Linked DNA regions of Homo sapiens. The protein of the gene in region 6 purifies or fractionates together with the protein of the main gene of each other region. This does not show direct contact. Each region holds a gene or a part of one and is shown on either strand. Other genes may lie near its edges. The genes, in order: TBC1D14, GPNMB, TRIM16, FBXL5, EML4 and TFEB.

Region 1 (3,500 bases), on a different chromosome or scaffold from region 6:
TTTGAATTTTATATCCACTTTAATTTCCATGTTTGTGTTTTTTCTAGTTTCTCCTTGGACCAAGATGACTGATGGAAAACTCTCCACCTCTACAAATGGCGTAGCCTTCATGGGTATTCTGGATGGTCGACCAGGAAACCCCCTTCAGAACCTGCAACACGTCAATCTCAAGGCGCCCCGACTCCTCTCCGCGCCTGAGTACGGGCCCAAGCTGAAACTCAGGGCTTTAGAAGACCGGCACAGCCTCCAGTCCGTGGACTCGGGGATTCCTACCCTGGAGATCGGGAACCCGGAGCCTGTACCCTGCAGCGCGGTCCACGTGAGGAGGAAGCAGTCCGACTCCGACCTCATCCCCGAGCGGGCCTTCCAGAGCGCCTGCGCGCTGCCATCCTGTGCGCCACCAGCTCCTAGCAGCACCGAGCGGGAACAGAGCGTGCGCAAATCCTCCACGTTTCCCAGGACAGGCTATGACTCGGTAAAGCTCTATAGCCCGACCTCCAAAGCCCTGACCCGCAGCGATGATGTCTCCGTCTGCAGCGTGTCCAGTCTTGGGACAGAGCTGTCCACCACGCTGTCCGTCAGCAATGAGGACATCTTGGACCTTGTGGTCACGAGCAGCTCCAGTGCCATTGTGACCCTGGAGAATGACGATGACCCACAGTTTACCAACGTCACCTTGAGCTCTATCAAGGAAACCCGTGGCTTACACCAGCAGGACTGTGTTCATGAAGCTGAGGAGGGGAGTAAATTGAAAATATTGGGGCCATTTAGTAACTTCTTTGCAAGGTAATGCCATCTTTGCCCTCTAGAAGATCGTGGTGGTTGAGTCCAGACCAGTCTCCTTGTTCCTGTCTCAAATGTGTTGTGTGTTCTCTGTGGTGTTAGGCAGGCACTGTCTCACACAGATAATTGGGTCTTTTCCCAGAAGCCCGGAATCCTGTGGGATTGTGAGAACTGGTCTGTTGGGGATTCTGTTCTTCGGTGTCCCTGGCTCATTTGCAGTCTGTTGTCACATCTCTGCCTCTGACCTGCTGTGGCTGTCCCACAGGTGGCCAGTGTTACCAAATCAGCAGCCTGAGCCTCTGCGGGGCCCTGTGCACTCATAACTTAACGTTTCTTGGGCCAAGCAGAGGGCACTGGTGAGGGTGACGCCAGTGAGTAACTCTCATTTCTACTGCCAGCCCCTGCTGGCATAGTGCAGTGCTGGCATGCCGGGTGTTCCAGCCGTGTCCCCGTGCCCCTGGATGGCTGTGCTCTCGTGTGCCTGTCCTGGCCCTGCCTCTGCTGTGGAGGTGTGTGCTCTGCTGCACTGCAGCCCCATGCATTCCCAACGTGCTGGGCCTGGCCATGCACTCCGTCCCCATGGGGCCTTGTCACCTGAGTGCTGGAGTTCCTGTGTCTCCCTGAAGCCCTGGGGGGGCCGCGCCTTCAGCTTCTGCCTCTCGTTTGTGCTCTCATGCTTTTGTTCAACAAGTGCCTATTTCCTAGGCCCTGTTCTAGGCTGGTCATGTGGGGTAATACGGTGAGAGAAACGATGTTGGGTCATGACTTAGGGTGGGCTTGTGGCCTGGGGGTGGTGGGAGTGGACACCTTCGTCACACAAGCAAATGTGAACTCCCGAACGGTGGCGTGCTGGGAGGAAGGGCACAGGGGCTGTGGAGAGTACGTGTAGAATTGAGATCTGTGGCTGGGTGCAGTGGGTCACTCCTGTAATCTCAACACTTTGGGAGGCTGAGGTGGGTGGAGCACCTGAGGTCCGGAGTTCGAGACCAGTCTGGCCAACATGGCAAAACCCCGTCTCTACTAAAAATACAAAAATTAGCCAGGTATGGTGGTGCACGCCTGTATTCCCAGCTACTTGGGAGGAGGAGGCAGAGGTTGCGGTGAGCCGAGATCGCGCCACCGCACTCCAGCCTGGGCGACAGAATGAGACTCCATCTCAAAAAAACAAACAAACAAAAAAAGAATCGTGATCTGCTCCATAGCTGCTCTTTGGAGGGCTCTGGGGCCGGGGCTTGGCAGGTGGGAACATTTCTGCAGTTGACCCTGGCTGCCCCGTGTGTGTGTCTCTAGCAGAACCCACGTCAGACATTGCAGTACCGGGTGTCCCTTTGAGATGGTGTGGTGTGCCGGCTGGAGTCAGCTGGCGACTCTGACTGTGGCCAACACATTACCACTGCCTTAGTTGCTTCATCAACTAAAGGGGATCATCTCGGACCAGCCTAAGGCCAGTCCTGAGTGAGATGATCTGTGGTGTGGTCTGTGGTTTTGTCGGGAAACTTTCTTCTCGAATGTGCTGACAGATAGGTATCTTGGTACCATGAGCACAGTTCCTGGTCTCAGAATGCAGTAACTCAGCGATTGCCCTCAGTGGGAGGAACCTGGGAACTTTGGGGGAGATCTTGTCACTATCCCTTCTGAGGCTGTAGCCATATCGCGGTGTTGCTGTGGTTAGATTTGTGTGGCGGAACTTCCCCGTGCTCAGACGAGTGTGTTCAACTGTCCCTGCTTATGAACAACACCTGGTACCCGTTCCACGCGGACCTCAGGATCCATCCAGACATACAGAATCAGAAGCTCAGCGAGAAGGGCCTGAGGATGGGTTTTCAGAAATGTGGGAAACCTTGCTTGAAATGGGTTTGGCCGGGAAACAGCATGGTGGAAGGAGTGTGGCTTTGGAATTCAACCGACCTGTGCCATGTCCAGCTCTGTGCCCTTGAACAAGTTCCTTCACCTCCCAGTCAGTTTTCTCACCCCTAGAACCGTGCGCGGAGGAGCGTGGCCCGTGTGCCCATTATGCTGTTGACGAACGCCACACGCTCACCTTTGTCCTCGCACGTTCTGTCTCCGCTGCCTCACCTGAGAAGTGGGGATAATGAGCCCTTCCTTCCGTGGCAGTGGGGATTAAAATGGGTTAGCATGTGAGAAATTTAATGCAGATCCAGACACGTAGTAAACTTTTAAGTATGAGTTGCTTGTGGCGATCATGGCCACGTTGCTCTTTCTGCCGCCGTTGTGATTCAGCTGACTGAGCTGTGTATATTGGATTCTCTTCCCCTTTGAAAGGAAGCATCGTTGGTTATGCAATTTCTAGATCATTTCTAAAGCTACCGTTTCTTGGAAGTCATACTCAGCTTTGTGCTGCAGGAAACAAGTGTCTCTTCTTTTATTCCTTGGTTCCTTATCCTCGTTGTGATGGCTGTGACATTGTTATTGTGAGCCTCTCTGAACTACCTTTGGGAAGATAATGGAATATAATGAAAAATGACTTAAAACAAGTGATGACATGGGCAGAGTCTAGGGTTCTTTTGTCCTAGAGTCTTAAAAATGTTAGAGAAGAGTTTCCATGTAGAGTTCCTTTGAGGGGAAAGGGTTTCTGTGCCAGAATCTTTAGAGCTCACTAAACATTTTACAGGTGAGTAAATGGAGTTACAGTGAATGTTCATCAATTCAGCCCAGGGCCTGGCCCACAGCAGGTACCCAGAGGACTGTGGGCATCG
Region 2 (3,500 bases), on a different chromosome or scaffold from region 6:
TTGTAGTTCATCTGTTTTCCAGAATAGCTTAGGGAAACCCCAGAAAACTTGCATGTGAAAAGGAAAATAATGCTAAATTATCCCTCATTTTAATATTTCAACCTAAAAGCATCGTCGAAGCCCTCCACTTACAATCAAGCAATCATGCATTCTTTATTTCTTTGGGGGATGTATCTTTTAGATCAGATTCCTGTGTTTGTGACTATGTTCCAGAAGAACGATCGAAATTCATCCGACGAAACCTTCCTCAAAGATCTCCCCATTATGTTTGATGTCCTGATTCATGATCCTAGCCACTTCCTCAATTATTCTACCATTAACTACAAGTGGAGCTTCGGGGATAATACTGGCCTGTTTGTTTCCACCAATCATACTGTGAATCACACGTATGTGCTCAATGGAACCTTCAGCCTTAACCTCACTGTGAAAGCTGCAGCACCAGGACCTTGTCCGCCACCGCCACCACCACCCAGACCTTCAAAACCCACCCCTTCTTTAGGTAAGGTTTCGCAGTGATCTTTGAGGGAGGCTCCTTAATGGCTAACAAAATATTCACGCAGGTCATATTATTAAATCCCTCCTTAAGGGGATATTGTAAGGACTCTGCGGTGATTCCATTTTCTACCTGTTGATTTTTTAAAGCAAAGTTATCACCATTTTACACCTATAGAACACAGAAGAAGGAAGAATGTATGTAAAGTCACTTTGCAAATAGAATTCAGTGACTTGTAGAAAGTTCTTTGACCCTCCTCATTTGCACTGGTCCCTGCTATGTGTACACACTCTCCCCTCTTCTAACCTGTCACATTTTTGTTTATCTCCCATTTTTTATGGCTATGAGAAGGCACACTGGCTCCTTATACGATCAGGTCATTTCTATGTTCCTTCCTCTCCCCCACTAATTTCTTTCCCTACCCTGCCCACACCTACCCAGTGTCCATGAAAACACAGCTGTACTTGAAAGCAATTTCCAAATGGTCCAAGAAAGAATGTAGCTTGAGAGTATGTCTGGGTTAGCAAGCTGCAGTGACTCCTGACATTAAAATTGTGCTGCATCGTATGTTTATTGCGGCACTATTCACAATAGCAAAGACTTGGAATGAACCCAAATGTCCATCAATGATAGACTGGATTAAGAAAATGTGGCACATATACACCATAGAATACTATGCAGTCATAAAAAAGGATGAGTTCATGTCCTTTGTAGGAACATGGATGAAGCTGGAAACCATCATTCTGAGCAAACTATCACAAGGACAGAAAACCAAACGCCGCATGTTCTCATTCACAGGTGGGAACTGAACAATGAGAACACTTGGACACAGGGCGGGGAACATCACACACCAGGGCCTGTCGGGGGGTAGGGGTAGGGAGGCGGGATGGCATTAACAGAAATACCTATTGTAAATGACGAGTTAATGGGTGCAGCACACCAACATGGCACATGTATACATATGTAACAAACCTGCACTTTGTGCACATGTACCCTAGAACTTAAAGTAAAATTTAAAAAAAAGAGAAAAATAAATAAAAATAAAACTGTGCTGCATTTAAGGCATGATTAATTCAATACCACCCTATATTAATAGTCTGGGGACATTCAAGAAGTCCTTAAGAGTCCACTTTGGGTAGCACTGGCTTCCATCTGATTCCCCACGCTACCCCATGCCATCACCACCCTTTTCCCACTGGGCCAGTTGCACTCAGCACCCCAGGATCCTGGGGATAGCAATAGGCTGACATCCTCTCACTGGTCACAAGAGGGCGCCAGGGACCAAGCCCACGACGGTCCATCATGACGTCTGGGGCTTCTTGTTTTTACAAAATCCTGTTTGTTATAAATTATAAAGTTTTACAATAAGATGTTAGTAATAAAATGAGAGCTTGTTAAATCAAGCATATCTAAGTCAAGACAACACAAGTTATCACTGATTTCGATTATCTCAAAAATGTTTTAAATTACAAAGTTTATGCATGTTCCTTAGTAAAAATTAAAACAATGTAGATGTCTAGAGTAAAAAGCAAAAGTCCCCACTCGTACTCTCCTCCCAAGAGTTAAACCCTGTTAATAATTGGGAGGATTTCTTTCCAGATATTTTTCTATGCATTTATAAACATATACTATATATACACATAAGGTTTGTTTTGGTTGTGTAAATGGGTTCATTTACACAAGAGGGCTATTCATATTGTTTTACAATTTGCTCTTTTTCTAATTTAACAAACATTATAGACATCTTTCCACTGTTAATACATATAAGTCTATCTCACTTTATCCAGTGGCTGCATAGTGTTTCATAGAATGTATGTACTGTCATTTATTTCACCATTCTCTTTTTTTTTTTTTTTTTTTTTTTTTTTTGAGACAGCGTCTTGCTCTAACACCCAGGCTGGAGTGCAGTGGCACAATCTTGGCTCACTGCAACCTCCACCTCCTGGACTCAAGTGATCCTTCTGCCTCAGCCTCCCAAGTGGCTGTGGCTACAGGCATACACAACCACACCCAGCTAATTTTTTTATTTTTTAGTAGAGATGGGGTTTCGCCGTGTTGCCCAGGCTGGTCTCCAACTCTTGAGCACAGGTGATCTACCCACCCCAGCCTTCCAAAGTGCTGGGATTATAAGCGTGAGGCACTGTGCCCGGCCCACCATTCTCTTATTGATGGATGATTAGATTAATCCTAATTCCAACTACAATTATAACTGTATTGAACAACTTTAAATATACAGCTTCATTCTAGTAATCCTTTAGGAGAAGCAATTTTTTTTATCTACAACTATTAATGATCTTCTTTACAAATAAGAGGACCAGGTATAAAATTCAAAATAAATTACAGATGCTTTTAATATTTAAGTTCCAGAATGGTAAAAGACTTAATGTTAGGTTGTTTAATGTTAGTCTACTTTGAATTGCATTTTTATTAAACTAGCTTGTTTTTCTTATAAACTATTTATATCATAGCATGTTTTAAAAATATATTTGAAGCCAATGAAAAGCTATTTAAAATTTCTGTTGTAATTTCTCCCTAGGTGACACCATAAGATATAAACTAGTGGGCCAGGCATGGTGGCTCACATCTGTAATCCCAGCACTTTGGGAGGCCGAGGCAGGTGGATCACCTGAGGTCAGGAGTTCGAGACCAGCCTGGTCAACATGGTGAAACCCCGTCTCTACCGAAAATATAAAAATTAGCCGGGTGTGGTGGAGAGTGTCTGTAATCCCAGCTACTTGGGAGGCTGAGGCAGAAGAATCGCTTGAACCTGGGAGGTGGAGGTTGCAGTGAGCCGAGATCGCGCCATTGCACTCCAGCCTGGGCGACAAGAGAGAAACTCTGTCTCAAAAAAAAAAAAAAAAAAAGATATAAACTAGCAACCCCTACAAGTTAGTTAAGTTTTATTGCGAAGGAAAGCTGCCTGGCTTTATCTAAAGGTGTTAGATCAATCATAATCAACCCCAAAATGCCTTAAACCAGCATCTCTCTTAGGGAGAGCGAGGAGGGA
Region 3 (3,500 bases), on a different chromosome or scaffold from region 6:
ACTTTCTCCATTTGCGAATAAAGGAGTTGAGCCTGGAGGTCTTTAAGCACCTCTCCAACTGTAACATTGCACTTCTTGTTTTGTTTTAGGGTTTTTTGGTCCCAGGGAACCTCGTTTTCAGAGCAGTGGCTCACGCAGATCCTGAGCCCAGTTAATGGTCATACCTTTCCCTGAGTTTATGTTCATTCTATCCTCTGAGATTATCTTTGAAGTCTCATTACATAGATGTCTGTAAAATCCTTCAAGCTATGGACAGCCAAGGTCAGAGGCACATTTTCTCATAAGTGGCTGTTTCTAAATTCATAGGTTTGAGATACATAAAGATAAACCAGGTTCCTTTATGTCAATTTCCTTCCAGTTCTGCCCTCTGAGGACCCTGCCCTTTCCCAAAAGGGGTATCTTAAGAAGGAAAATATGGCTGCTCTTTGCCGGACAGCAGAGTCCCAGGTGAGTTGGGGATTTTCCTCTCTTCTTGGAAATTTTATTTTAATTGAGTTGGGGATTTTCCTCTCTTCTCAGAAATCTTATTTTAATTCCTGAAGCAAATTTTTTTTCTCTTAGCATGAAGCTTGTCAACCACATTAGCCACAGCAGTTTGAAAGGAAAGGATCAAGCAGGTGGGATGGACTGCCAATGAGATGGTGTTTGCGTGTTCCTCAGTTGTATGGCAGTAGCAGTGAAGGTCAGGAGGCTTGGTAGCCTCGCCCATCAGTTGGCAGTGTAGAGAAAGGATGGTAGGGGCAGGATGGGAATGAGGCCTCTTTAGCAGATAATTGAGGAGCGTGACTCCTAGAACATGGTTGGGTAAGAATCAAGCTTCTTTTTGTTCACTTGAGACATTTGGCATAGATATGCAAAGGCACGTGAGGCATTTCTTGCTTGCATCTGCTTAGAATATTTTGGGGAGAAAAGATGTACACAAATCTGTGTGGCACAAACCAGCAGATTTATTATTATTAAATAGGGCCTTATTATTAAGGGCCTACTCAATATAAAGTGTCTTAGGGAAAATGCTGTATGGACTTGGAGGAGCAGGAGCAAATGTGTCTGGCTGAGAGAGATTTAGGAAGGTTTTATTCATTCAACTAGCATTTTAAAGTCCTTTTAAGCAGCTCCTAGGCTAATGAAAGTAGTGAGATTTGATGTGGGCCCTGAAAGCTGAGTAAATTCTTGAAAGATTTATAGAAAGTTAGTGACATAAATGACTTAGAATCAAAGCAAGATACTGATTCCTCTGGCACAGGAAAAAAGTCAGTACATTGAAATCACAGAGGTGTTGTTCCACAAAAACTTAAAGGCTTCTTATACTCAAAGTTCTTTCCTAGATATAATTCTCAAGCTTGGCTTATTTCTTTTTTTCTTTTTTTTTTTTTTTGAGACATAGTCTCGCTCTCTCGCCCAGGCTGGAGTGCAGTGGCGCGATCTCAGCTCACTGCAAGCTCCGCCTCCCAGGTTCACTCCATTCTCCTGCCTCAGCCTCCCGAGTAGCTGGGACTACAGGCACCCGCCACCGCGCCCGGCTAATTTTTTGTATTTTTAGTAGAGACAGGGTTTCACCGTGTTAGCCAGGATGGTCTCGATCTCCTGACCTTGTGATCTGCCCGCCTCGGCCTCCCAAAGTGCTGGGATTACAGGCGTGAGCCACCACGCCCGGCCAGCTTGGCCTATTTCTTAGTTTCTTACTTACCATGTGTCTCTCTCAACTTAACTGAAGATAACCTTAAGGCCGGCTAAACAATAGGCTTGGGTGGGAAGGCCACATCCTTAATCTGACATTTTTTTTACAGGGCTAAATCACTTTGTTTAGTTAACAGGTGTAATGGGCCTTTATTGCTCAAAGCTCTTGTTAGACTTACTTCCCACTGTATGAGATCTAGAAACAGTTTGCTTTTCCAACCACGTGAGGCCTCAGATTTCTGCACTCTATTCTCTTTTGTTTTGGCTTGAAAATTGACACATTGTTTCCTGAACTTAACTCATTCTTTGTTCGCCAGACATATCCAGGAGCATTCTACACAAAGAGCGTTCTGGTGCTTTCCAACCTGTTCTAGAGCCACAGGCCCAGTGAGCATTTGCCCTGGCCTCATAGTTGCTAATTAGTTTGCCAGTGTATATTAAGAGTCTGCATCTGTTGGCTGGATGCGGTGGCTCATGCCTGTAATCCCAGCACTTTGGGAGGCCGAGGTGGGCGGATCACCTGAGGTCAGGAGTCTGTGACCAGCCTGGACAACATGGTGAGATCCCGTTTCTACTAAAAATACAAAAAAAAGTAGCTGGGCGTGGTGGCTCACACCTGTAGTCCCAGCTACTCAAGAGGCTGAGGCAGGAGAATCGCTTAAACATGGGAGATGGAGGTTGCGGTAAGCCGAGAGCATCGTGGCCACTGCACTCCAGCAACAGAGTGAGACTCCGTCTCAAAAAAAAAAAAAAAAAGGAGAGTCTGCATTTCTCCAGTCGTAAATATTCTTTTCTTTGAAGCTTGCCACCTGACTGTCAATCCAATGCCACCTGTGTATTTGAACTTTTTATTATGATATCTCCCACTTGAAGGTGCTGATTTCTGAATTAGTTTGGGTTGGCTTACTAATAACTGTTGTAACCAATAGACCCAAAATATATATGGCCTTAATACAATAGAAGTGTATTGTTTGCTGTCATAGCCATGTGAGTGGGTATATAGATTGATAGGATGGCCATTCAGGGACCTGAGCTACCTGAAGCTCTAGCCTCTTTACCATATGGCTTCCAAACTCACTCTGGGGCTCATGGCCCTACCAGCCAGTCAGAAGGGGAAAACAGCATGGAGGAACATACGTGAGTCAGGCCTGGAAAGGGCGCACATCACTCCTGCTTGCATTCCATTGGTTAGGATCTCATGGCCAGGTCTAACTACAGGAGGTTGGGAAATGTTTGTATACCTAGAAAGGAGAGGAGGAGGCATATTTTCATGGACAGTTAGCAGCTCGTAGCACTGTTCTCAAACATTTAGGTTATTTAGAACGATTTTGCTATTTTTCTATTGTAAGGTATAAATAGATGTGATTCTTTGTTTATAACTCTCCATATTTCTGATAGTTTTCTTTTTTTTTTTTTGAGACACAGTCTCGTTCTGTTGCCCAGGCTGGAGTGCAATGGCGTGATCTCGGCTCACTGCAAGCTTCGCCTCCCGGGTTCACGCCATTCTCCTGCTTCAGCCTCCCGAATAGCTGGGACTACAGGCGCCCACCACCATGCCTGGCTAATTTTTTTTGTATTTATAGTAGAGATGGGGTTTCACCATGTTAGCCAGGATGGTCTCGATCTCCTGACCTCGTGATCTGCCCACCTCGGCCTCCCAAAGTGCTGGGATTACAGGCGTGAGCCACTGCACCCAGCCGATAGTTTTCTTATAATTGAGTTCTGTATATAAAATTACTGTAAAACAAAACTATCAAATTATGTCAGAGGGGTATACACATTTTAAGATTTTAAGATTCTTTAATATACGAGTCAATAAAATC
Region 4 (3,500 bases), on a different chromosome or scaffold from region 6:
CAGAGGATGTACTCTCAGCAAATTTCAAGTACATAATACAGTATTATTAGCTATAGTCACCATACTGTACCTTATATCCCCAGAACGTACTCATCTTAGAACTGAAAGTTAGTGTTCTTTTTTCAGCATCTCCCCATTTTCTCCATCCCCTGCCCCAACAACCACCTTTCATATTCTCTGCTTCTGTGAGTTCTACTTTAGATTCCATATATAGTGAGATCATACATTATTTATCTCTCTGTCTCTGGCTTATTTCACTTAGCTGTCTTCCAGGTTCATCTATGTTGTTGCAAATGACAGGATTTCCTTTTTTATGACTGAATAATATTTTATTGTATATATCACATTTTCTTTACTCATTTGTGGACAAGCACTCAGGTTGGCTCCATATCTTGGCTATTATGAATAATGCTGCATTGAACATGGGAGTGCAGATATCTCTTAGAGATCCTAATTTTATTTACTTTGAACATATACTCAGGAATGGGATTGCTGGAACTTATGAAAATTACATTTTTAATTTTTTGAGGAATTTCCATACTGTTTTCCATAATGGCTGTACCAATTCCTTTCTAATGATATTTTATTTTGGTCTGAATACAGAATTAATAACAGAAAAGCCTACTAAATAAGCCTTACAGATGCCTAGGTAGGGCTTATATTCTGTGTTCTTTATATTAACTTATTAAATTATCACAGGTAGCCAGGTGCAGTGGCTTGTGCCTATAATCTCAGCAACTCAGGATGCTGAGTCAGGAGGATCGCTTGAAGCCAGGACTTTAAGACCAGCTTGGCCAACATAGTGAGACCCCGTCTCTAAAAAATAAAAAAGTAACTGGGTGTGGTGCACACCACACCTGTAGTTCCAGCTATTCGGAAGGCTGAGGCCAGCAGGAGGATCACTTGAGCCCAGGAGTTTGAGGTTGCAGTGAGCTATGATCATGCCACTGCACTGCAGCCTGGGTGTCAGAGCAAGACCCTGTCTCAAAAAAATTCTCACAAGAACTCTGTGAAGTAGTTAATATTATTAGCCCTGTTTTACAGATGAAGAAACTGAGGTACAAAGAAATGTAATGACTTGCTGGTAGAATGGATTTACACCTAGGCAATCTTGCCCTAGAGTCAGTGCTTTTAACTACTGTGCTAGGTTAGCTGGATATAGATTCTACCTGTAATTTAGAGTCTCTTTATATAGTTACTATAGTTAATTTGACTGTCAGTTTGTGGCATGAAACTAATCTTTACCTTAATGTGTTATTAGATCTAAAAGAATTTCTAATAGTCTAATGAGAATATATGCAAAATTCCCTGTATGTCTTTTAATATATTATTTTTCTTAACTCATGTTAGGGCATTACAGTCTTCCCTTGGTATCCTCCTATTTTGTGGGAGATTGTTTTCAGGACACCCATGAATACCAAACTCCATAGATGCTCAAGTCCCTCAGATAAAATAGCATAGTATTTGCATGTAACTTACACATATCTTCCCATACACTTTAAATCATCTTTAGATTACTTATAATACATAATACAGTGAAAATGCTATGTATGTAGTTGTTATATTGTTTTTTGTTGTTGTTGTTTATTTTTATTTTTTTCAACATTTTCTTTCTTTTTTTTTTTTTTTTTTTTTGAGATGGAGTCTTGCTTTGTTGCCCAGGCTGGAGTGCAGTGGCATGATCTCGGCTCACTGCAACCTCTGCCTCCTGGGTTCAAGTGATTCTCCTGTCTCAGCCTCCCGAGTAGCTGGGACTACAGGTGCACACCACCACTCCCTGCTAATTTTTGTGTTTTTAGTAGAGATGGGGTTTCACCATGTTGGTCAGGCTGGTCTCGAACTCCTGACCTCAGGTAATCCACTCACCTCAGCCTCTCAAAGTGCTGGGATTACAGGTGTGAGCCACCATGCCCAGCCTTTTTCAATCCACAGTTGGTTGAATCTGTGGTTTCTGCATCCCCACGGAGGCTGACTGTGTTTACTTTTTGCCATTAAAAAAATAATATCTAGAAGCTGGAAACCATCATTCTCAGCAAACTGTCGCAAGGACAAAAAAACCAAACACCGCATGTTCTCACTCATAGTGGGAATTGAACAATGAGAACAACATGGACGTGGGAAGGGGAACATCACACACCGGGGCCTGTTGTGGGGTGGGGGGAGGGGGAGGGATAGCATTGGGAGATATACCTAATGTTAGATGACGGGTTAATGGGTGCAGCACACCAACATGGCACATGTATACATATGTAACAAACCTGCACGTTGTGCACATGTACCTAAAACTTAAAGTATAATAATAATAATAATAAAAAATATTTAGCATTAATGGTTTCTTTTGATTTTGTACCCTGCTTCTACTAAGGCTATTTTTAAGTTTGCCTTTTTTTTTTTTTCCAAAAAATGATACATGATAGTGTTTGCAGAGATTAGCCACCAATAGATTTTATTGTAATCTTGTGGGGCATTTCTTATGATTTAAAAAAAAATCTATAATATGTATTTAACCAAGTATGTCCTGCCTGTGTTTTTTGTGTGGCTTAAGAGCCAAGCATCACTTTTACATTTTTAAATAGTTGGAAAAAATCAAAAGAAGAATAGTATTTTGTGACATGTGAAAAATTATATGAAATTTGAATTTCAGTGTTTATAAAGTTTTATGGAAATACAGCTACAGTCATTCATTTACATGTTGTCTATGACTACTTTTGTGCTACAACTGCTGAGGTAAATAATTGCTACAGACCACATGGCCTGCAAAAGTTAAAATATTTATTACCTGTCCTTTTATAGAAAAGTTGCCAATTCTTGCTCTAGATTATTTACTTATGTATTGCAGTTAACTGTTCATTGTCTTATTTACCTTCACTGAAATGGAAACTCCATAAAGGCAAGAAATCTTTGTTTTGTTCATTGATATATCCCAGGTACCAAAGAACAGTGCCTGCCTCATCATAGCTACTCAGTAAATATTTGTATAGAGTAAAAAATGTATGAATTTATAAAAAATGAATATTTAATTTTCAAAATGATAATAGCTAATGTTTATTGAGTACTAACAACCATGTGAAATACAGATGTTTTATTATATCCATTTAACATCAAGATTAACACATTAAGAAAGAAAAGTAGGCCGGGCGTGGTAGCTTATACCTGTAATCCCAGCACTTTGGGAGGCCGAGGCGGGTGGATCATGTGGTCAGGAGTTCAAGACCAGCCTGGCCAAGATGGTGAAACCCCATCTCTGCTAAAAAATACAAAAATTAGCCGGGCGTGGTGGCGAGCACCTGTAATCCCAGCTACTCAGGAGGCTGAGGCAGGATAATCGCTTGAACCCAGGAGGCAGAGTCTGCAGTGAGCTGAGATCATGCCCCTGCACTCTAGCCTGGGCGACAAAGCAAGACTCTGTCTCAAAAAAAAAGAAAGAAAGAAAAGTAACTTACCCAGGGTTACACAGTTAAGTAATGGTAGAACTGGTATCCCATCCTAGAGAATGTGAC
Region 5 (3,500 bases), on a different chromosome or scaffold from region 6:
AAAATGCAACTTCCATCACTGTTTTCTTCACAGATAACTCATATCCTTTGTTAATAAAAGCTATACAATCTAGTTCACTCCTTCCTTTCCCATTTCTAATGTAAATTTGGATTCCTCTTAGAGTTCAGTTATTTGTATTTTTAGGAGTAATTTTAGATCCCACTTGATAAAGTGGGATTTATAATTCCATTATTTCAGAATCATTCTTTGAGATTATTATTAAATGTATTAACACAGCATTCACTGAGATTGTTCCATGTATTGCATTAAATGAAATTGCTCTCCCAAGGAATCCTATTATTATAATACTTTATAATATATTGTTTTTTAATTTACAGAGAACTTCCACATTACATTTTTTTAATTGACACATTGTAATTGAACATATTTATGGGATACAATCTGATGTTTTGATGCAGATATGCTGTATAGTAATCCAGTCAGGGTAGTTAGTATGTCTGTTGCCTCATGCATTTATCATTTTTTTGTGGTGAGAATATTTTTATATTTTGATCCTTACAACAATCAAGAGTGGGTAGGGCATGTATTATTATCCTTATATTACAGAAAATGTTTCTTAGGCTAAGTAACTTACCCAAAGTAATGTAACTAATATAACTAATAAGTAACAAAACCCGACCACATTCTTCATGTGATTTCATGTGAGCTAATAGAACTTACTTCTTTTTTTTTTTTTTTGAGACAGAGTCTTGCTCTGTCGCCCAGGCTGGAATACAGTGGCCCAGTCTTGGCTAACTGCAACCTCTGCCTCCCGGATTCAAGCAATTCTCCTGCCTCAGCCTCCTCAGTAGCTGGGATTATAGGCGCCCGCCACCGCACCTGGCTGATTTTTATATTTTTAGTAGAGACAGGGTTTCACCATGTTGGCCAGGCTGGTCTCGAACTCCTGACCTCAGGTGATCCACCCGCATTGGCCTCCAAATGTGCTGGGATTACAGGTGTGAGCCACCATGCCCAGCCTTTTTTCCCTGTTCTTAACCCTTAACTCCTAAAGTCATATAAAATATACGTTTAAAATTAACTGAAGCAAAGAATGTTGATAATTATTATAACTTCTGTATAATAAAATGTCATTGGACAAATAAATTAGTAGTAGTATGAGATTACCATATCCAAATTTGGGCTTTCGTCATAATTACCTCATAATTGCTTACAGCTATAAATGCAGGCTTCGAGTAGTAATTAATGCATATTAGTATGTATATGGTGACTTTACACTTTTTTTTCTAGGTTCCTGATCAGTATGGCACAATCAGAGCTGTAGCAGAAGGAAAGGCAGATCAATTTTTAGTAGGCACATCACGAAACTTTATTTTACGAGGAACATTTAATGATGGCTTCCAAATAGAAGTACAGGTAAGCTGTGTGATATTAACCGTTAACTGAATATTTTTTATGATATTCTTTGGTTCTTATAACAATGAGTGTCTTTCATTTTCAGGGTCATACAGATGAGCTTTGGGGTCTTGCCACACATCCCTTCAAAGATTTGCTCTTGACATGTGCTCAGGACAGGCAGGTGTGCCTGTGGAACTCAATGGAACACAGGCTGGAATGGACCAGGCTGGTAGATGTGAGTGAAGCAGGATGTGATTATTAACCTCCCCACAGAAACTCCTCACACTGGCAGTTGAGAGCAGCAAAGTAAAAAGGACTAAGTGTTGATTCAAACCAAATGTAAACATATGGTTTAGTAATAGAGGGTGGAGATAAGAGGGTAGCGTTTAGTCTTAAAGTGTGAACATGAACCGATTTTAAAGAAGTAAGTTAGGCCGGGCAAGGTGGCTCACACCTGTAATCCCAGCACTTTGGGAGGCCCAGGCAGGCGGATCACGAGGTCAGGAGATCGAGACCATCCTGGCTAACACGGTGAAGCCCTGTCTCTAGTAAAAATACAAAAAATTAGCCAGGCGTGGTGGTGGGCGCCTGTAGTCCCAGCTACTCGAGAGGCTGAGGCAGGAGAATGGCATGAACCCGGGAGGCGGAGCTTGCAGTGAGCCGAGATCGTGCCAGTGCACTCCAGCCTGGGCAACAGAGCGAGACTCCGTCTCAAAAAATAAAAAATAGAAGAAGTAAGTTAGCAGCGTAAAAGCTCAATTTGTCCATCAGCTTCAGTAGTAAAATCATAAAGATTTCAAATATCTACATAGCATTAATTATTATGGAAACATTTGTGCCTCGGGTGGCATTGCAGTTGGATTCAGTAAGTGCTGCTCACTAACAGGCTCTACTGTCTTCTTTCTGGGTGGTCTCTTACTGTATTTTCTCTCTACCCAACCCAGATATCCACCTTCTCTAGCCCAAGAGGTGTATATAAGTTCTTTGTGGATGCTAAAGAACTGTACCAGTGTTTGTTGTTATTATCCTTATTATTGTTCCACTCCCTAGCCACAAGCTGGTTGTCCCTTTCCCTCACCACTCTGCCAGCATATCCCCTTCATGCTCTGAAATTCTTTTTCCTCTCATATCTGTGTGGTATTTCTCATTAGCTACAAAGTTGATTGAAATGTTATGTTTGAATGAAACAGGTTATTTTCAGAAGTTTTTGCTACTGTCCCCATAGGGAGACTTTCTCATGTACTCCCCAACAGCTGTCTGTCTCTTTTCTAGGAACCAGGACACTGTGCAGATTTTCATCCAAGTGGCACAGTGGTGGCCATAGGAACGCACTCAGGCAGGTAGGGTCTTTAAGTGAACTGAGTAATCTGAAGTGGTGGGATGTTTAAATGCTATTCAGGAATGTTCTCAATCTGATCTGGAGAATTAATCTCTTAAGTGGCACACTAATATGCTTGTTGTTCTTATCCGTTTTGTATATTCATAGAATTCAATTATTTATTGAGCACCTGCCTTTTGCGACATGCTACATGCTATTGTGTGTATTCAGAATACATCAGAAAACAAAACAAAAATTCCTGTCCTGTGAAGCCTACATTTTAGCGTGTATGGGACAGAATAAAAAATAAGCCCTGACGCAGCCAGGCACAGTAATCCCAGCACTTTGGGAGGCCAAGGTGGGCGGATCACCTGAGGTCAGGAGTTCGAAACCAGCCTGGCCAATGTAGCGAAACCCCGTCCCTACTAAAAATACAAAAATTAGCCAGGCGCAGTGGCACACACCTGTAATCCCAGCTATTCTGGAGGCTGAGGCAGGAGAATCAGTTGAACCTGGGAGACAGTTGCAGTGAGCCGAGATTGTGCCACTGCGCTCCAGCATGGGCAACAGAGCAAGACTCCATCTCAAAAAAAATAATAAGGCGAGTTGCAGTAGCCCACGCCAGTAATTCCAGTGCTTTGGGAGGCTGAGGCAGGAAGATTGCTTGAGGCCAGGAGTTTGAGACCAGCCTGGGTGAGACACCATCTCTACAAAAAATAAAAATAATAAACATTATCACGAATTATATTAGAAAATGTTAAGAACCATGTGAGGATAGGGAAAATGATGGGAGATTAAGAGGGAGTGCAGTTGCAAAATGATA
Region 6 (3,500 bases):
TGTGCTTCTGAGACTCCCAGTCTAATGGCAGAGGCAGGGGTGCCTTCAGGGAGACTCAGTCTGAGGTGGGGACAGAGCCCTTCTCAGGGAGCCCCAATCTCAGGGGGGAAGACACAGCCCTGCCCTCAGGGAGCCTCACAGAGGAAACGCCATCCTTACTTTCAAAAGCTCTGCTAGGAAGTCAGGTGCCGTGGCTCACGCCTGTAATCCCAGCACTTTGGAAGGCTGAGGCAGCCAGATCACTTGAGGTCAGGAGTTTGAGAACAGCCTGGCCAACATAGTGAAACCCTATCTCTACTAAAATACAAAAATTAGCTGGGCGTGGTGGTGCACGCCTGTAATCCCAGCTACTTGGGAGGCTGAGGCAGGAGAATCACTTGAATCGGGAAGGCGGAAGTTGCAGTGAGCTGAGATCGAGCCACTGCACTTCAGCCTGGGCGACAGAGTGAGACTCCTTCTCGAAAAAAAAAAAAGAAAAAAGAAAAAAGAAAGCTCTGCTAGGGAGAAACAGAAGACTTATCCAGGAAAGCCCAGCACACTCCCCAAGCCAGAGACAGAAGTGAGATCAAGGAAGCTCCCTGGGCAGGTAGGCTCCTTGGCAAGAACCGTAGCTTCATGTTGGGCCAGTGGGACCTGGACAGCTCATCTCTTCTCTGGGCCTATTTCCTCTTTCCCCAGATAAGTAGGTTGGGTGAGGTGGGCTCCAAGGTCCCTCCAGGTCAGTGGTTGTCCCAATGCCTCTTTCCCCTGCCCACCTCGTGGTGGGCCCTCCCCAGATGGACTTTTCTCTTTTCCAGTTGGATGATGTCATTGACAACATTATGCGTCTGGACGATGTCCTTGGCTACATCAATCCTGAAATGCAGATGCCCAACACGGTACTCCTGGCTAGGGTGGGGTGGGTGTGCAAGGGTTCTAGGGAGGGGGGCACCCACTGTGGCTCTGAGCCTGGAGAGAGTGGAGACAGGGTTCTCACTGGGCAGAGCTGGCATGTTTCTGTAGAGATGAGTCATTTTCATTAAATAATGTGACAAAGGCCGGGGCCAAGAGGAATTATGAAGCAAGAAGGATGTGCCTCAGCCTCTGTGCACCATGGGGCTTCAGAGGGGAGAAGGGGCTGGGGACACGGAGTGGGCCTGTGGGGGGAGCTTTCCAGGTTGGCGAAGGGGCAGAGGGAGGCAGGGAGAGCACTGCATGGGTGGAGGGGCAGTGTGTCTATGGGAAGGTGTGGAACTAATGAGCTCCTTTGGGGACCTGGGCCTCCCCTCCTTTACCAAACCCAGGGCCCAACAGGCAAAAGCCTGTCTGTGTCTCTTACTCCATGGGGCAAGTGATCTGGGGCTGGCCTTGTCCCCAACCACAGGAACACTCCCTCTGGCAGCTTCCTGCGTCTCCTGGCAGAGGTGGGGTAGCAGGTGGGGAGGTGCTGGGCTTGGAGTCAAGAAGCCTGGCTTCTGGCTTTTGCTGTGACCTTAGGAAATCCCTCAAGCATACTAAACCCCAGTTTTCTCAGCTGCAAAATGGGGGTGATGCTCTCTACCCACAGGATTGTGGGAAGATTAGATGAGGGAAGAAATTGAGGGCAAGCTCTCTACAAAGGTGGCAGGTGTGTACGCTGGGCAGGTGGGATTGCCAGCGCCCCTTCCACCCACTTTTCTTTGGAGCTCCTGAACCTCAGCTACTTACTCCTGCCTTTGGGCATGAGCCTTTCACCCTGATCCTGGCCCCAGCCCATGCCACCAAGGGAAAGTCCCCAGTTCCTGTGGTGGGGAGTCAATCCTCTGTCCCCACTGCCCTGGTGACATCGCTGAGTGGCTTAGTAGGAGCTGGCCGGGACTGGTTGGGTCCAAACCTACAGCTAGCAGGGGCAGCGAGGGCTGAGGAGGGAGGGAGGATGCAAGTGATTGGTCCCTTTAGTAGTTCCTGTGTACACTGTGGGGTGTCTGGGCCTGTGATTTGTTCTGCATGTTTCTGTGGCAGATCTTTCCAGAGCTCAGATCTCTCCCTGTCAGACTCCTGCTTCAACTTCCCTTGGCTGCCCATTCCAAAATTCCAGTATCTTTGCAAGTCAAACACTGTACTGGGGATCCAGATACATCTGCCCTGCCTACAGCACCTCCACCCCCACCACTTCTGCCCTTGAGCTGCTGGAATTGTGCTCTGCCAAGCTGCCCTGTCTGCTTGTGCCCTGGTGGCTGCCCGGAGTGCCTTGCCTCACATCTCTGCTCAAGACTCAGAGTTCCACACCCTCCAGGAAACCGTCCAGAAACTCTAGAATTGATTAGATGACCTGCTCTAGGGCTTCCATAATGCCTGGGGCCTAATCCTATCACATATTATTGGTTGGATCACTCTCTCAGACACTCTAGGCCAGGGGCTCCTTGAGGGCAGGGACTACATCTTATAATAGCTCTGGACTCTGCAGACCTTCAGGTTGAATTGCTGGGTGAAAGGGCCCAAGGTGAATTTTGACACTCCAGGTGTCCCCAGGAAGGACTGCTCCTGGGATGATAGGCCCTAGAGGGGGCTCCCCGTGGAGAGGGGGATACTCATGGGTCTCCCTCACCCCCTACCCCACAGCTACCCCTGTCCAGCAGCCACCTGAATGTGTACAGCAGCGACCCCCAGGTCACAGCCTCCCTGGTGGGCGTCACCAGCAGCTCCTGCCCTGCGGACCTGACCCAGAAGCGAGAGCTCACAGGTACTGCCTCCCTCTACCCCTGTGCCTTTGAATACCCGACTCCTCCCTCCTTTTCTCCCTCCCTCCCAGCTCCTCTCTCCTTCTCTTTTGGCCTCCAGATGCTGAGAGCAGGGCCCTGGCCAAGGAGCGGCAGAAGAAAGACAATCACAACTTAAGTGAGTCCTGCCCCGCCCCTCTCCCTGCCTCCCTCTTCCTTGTTCTCACCTGGGCTGGCTAAAAAGCCACTCCCTGACCTGCACTGGTGGAAGGCTTCCCTGCTCAAGGCCAATTCACTTGCAGATGGCTTAAGCCCTCCCATTGCTGTCGCTCAGTGGTGCCTGGGACTATTAGTGCTGTCTTTCCACTAGGCCTCTTTAGGAGTGGGTAGGAAGGATTCCTGTAAGGGATATTCATGAAACCCCCAGTTTATCAGGTTGTTTTCTGGGTTAAGGCATGGAACCTGGGGCATCAGAGTTCTGTGTAGCAGGGAAGAGTCCTACCCCAGGCAGCTTTGCTGTGCTACGAGCATCACCATGGCTGATTCTACCTTTCAGTGCTCTTAATTGTGTCTGGCCTTTGCCCTGGACCCCCTAATTCCTGTAGAAATCCCAATCTGTTGGTCACCTCTTACTTCCTGGAAGAACTAAATCTAAGCTGCAGGCTGCCCTGAAGCACCCCTCCCTGGGCTGGGTACTTCTCCCCATGGGGTGGGGGGTCCCCATCCCTCTAATTGCTCCTTCTGGAATCTGTTACCTTTAGTTGAAAGGAGACGAAGGTTCAACATCAATGACCGCATCAAGGAGTTGGGAATGCTGATCCC

What was found.
Region 1: the proteins of TFEB (region 6) and TBC1D14 purify together in Homo sapiens (affinity purification with mass spectrometry; one large-scale study listed by BioGRID and IntAct). This does not show direct contact.
Region 2: the proteins of TFEB (region 6) and GPNMB purify together in Homo sapiens (affinity purification with mass spectrometry; one large-scale study listed by BioGRID and IntAct). This does not show direct contact.
Region 3: the proteins of TFEB (region 6) and TRIM16 purify together in Homo sapiens (affinity purification with western blotting; one study listed by BioGRID). This does not show direct contact.
Region 4: the proteins of TFEB (region 6) and FBXL5 purify together in Homo sapiens (affinity purification with western blotting; one study listed by BioGRID). This does not show direct contact.
Region 5: the proteins of TFEB (region 6) and EML4 purify together in Homo sapiens (affinity purification with mass spectrometry; one large-scale study listed by BioGRID and IntAct). This does not show direct contact.

What each region holds. Positions count from the first base shown.
Region 1 is NC_000004.12:6,923,326-6,926,825, forward strand, and holds part of TBC1D14 (TBC1 domain family member 14), read left to right. Parts: intron 1-47; 5' UTR 48-64; coding exon 65-786; intron 787-3,500. UniProt on the Homo sapiens protein: Plays a role in the regulation of starvation-induced autophagosome formation.
Region 2 is NC_000007.14:23,260,275-23,263,774, forward strand, and holds part of GPNMB (transmembrane glycoprotein NMB isoform b precursor), read left to right. Parts: intron 1-181; coding exon 182-499; intron 500-3,500. UniProt on the Homo sapiens protein: Could be a melanogenic enzyme.
Region 3 is NC_000017.11:15,677,812-15,681,311, reverse strand, and holds part of TRIM16 (tripartite motif-containing protein 16), read left to right. Parts: intron 1-358; coding exon of another isoform or gene 359-447; intron 448-3,500.
Region 4 is NC_000004.12:15,645,358-15,648,857, reverse strand, and holds part of FBXL5 (F-box/LRR-repeat protein 5), read left to right. Parts: intron 1-3,500.
Region 5 is NC_000002.12:42,301,853-42,305,352, forward strand, and holds part of EML4 (echinoderm microtubule-associated protein-like 4), read left to right. Parts: intron 1-1,251; coding exon 1,252-1,377; intron 1,378-1,462; coding exon 1,463-1,594; intron 1,595-2,631; coding exon 2,632-2,699; intron 2,700-3,500. UniProt on the Homo sapiens protein: Essential for the formation and stability of microtubules (MTs). Required for the organization of the mitotic spindle and for the proper attachment of kinetochores to MTs. Promotes the recruitment of NUDC to the mitotic spindle for mitotic progression.
Region 6 is NC_000006.12:41,687,109-41,690,608, reverse strand, and holds part of TFEB (transcription factor EB), read left to right. Parts: intron 1-797; coding exon 798-878; intron 879-2,580; coding exon 2,581-2,701; intron 2,702-2,799; coding exon 2,800-2,856; intron 2,857-3,439; coding exon 3,440-3,500. UniProt on the Homo sapiens protein: Transcription factor that acts as a master regulator of lysosomal biogenesis, autophagy, lysosomal exocytosis, lipid catabolism, energy metabolism and immune response.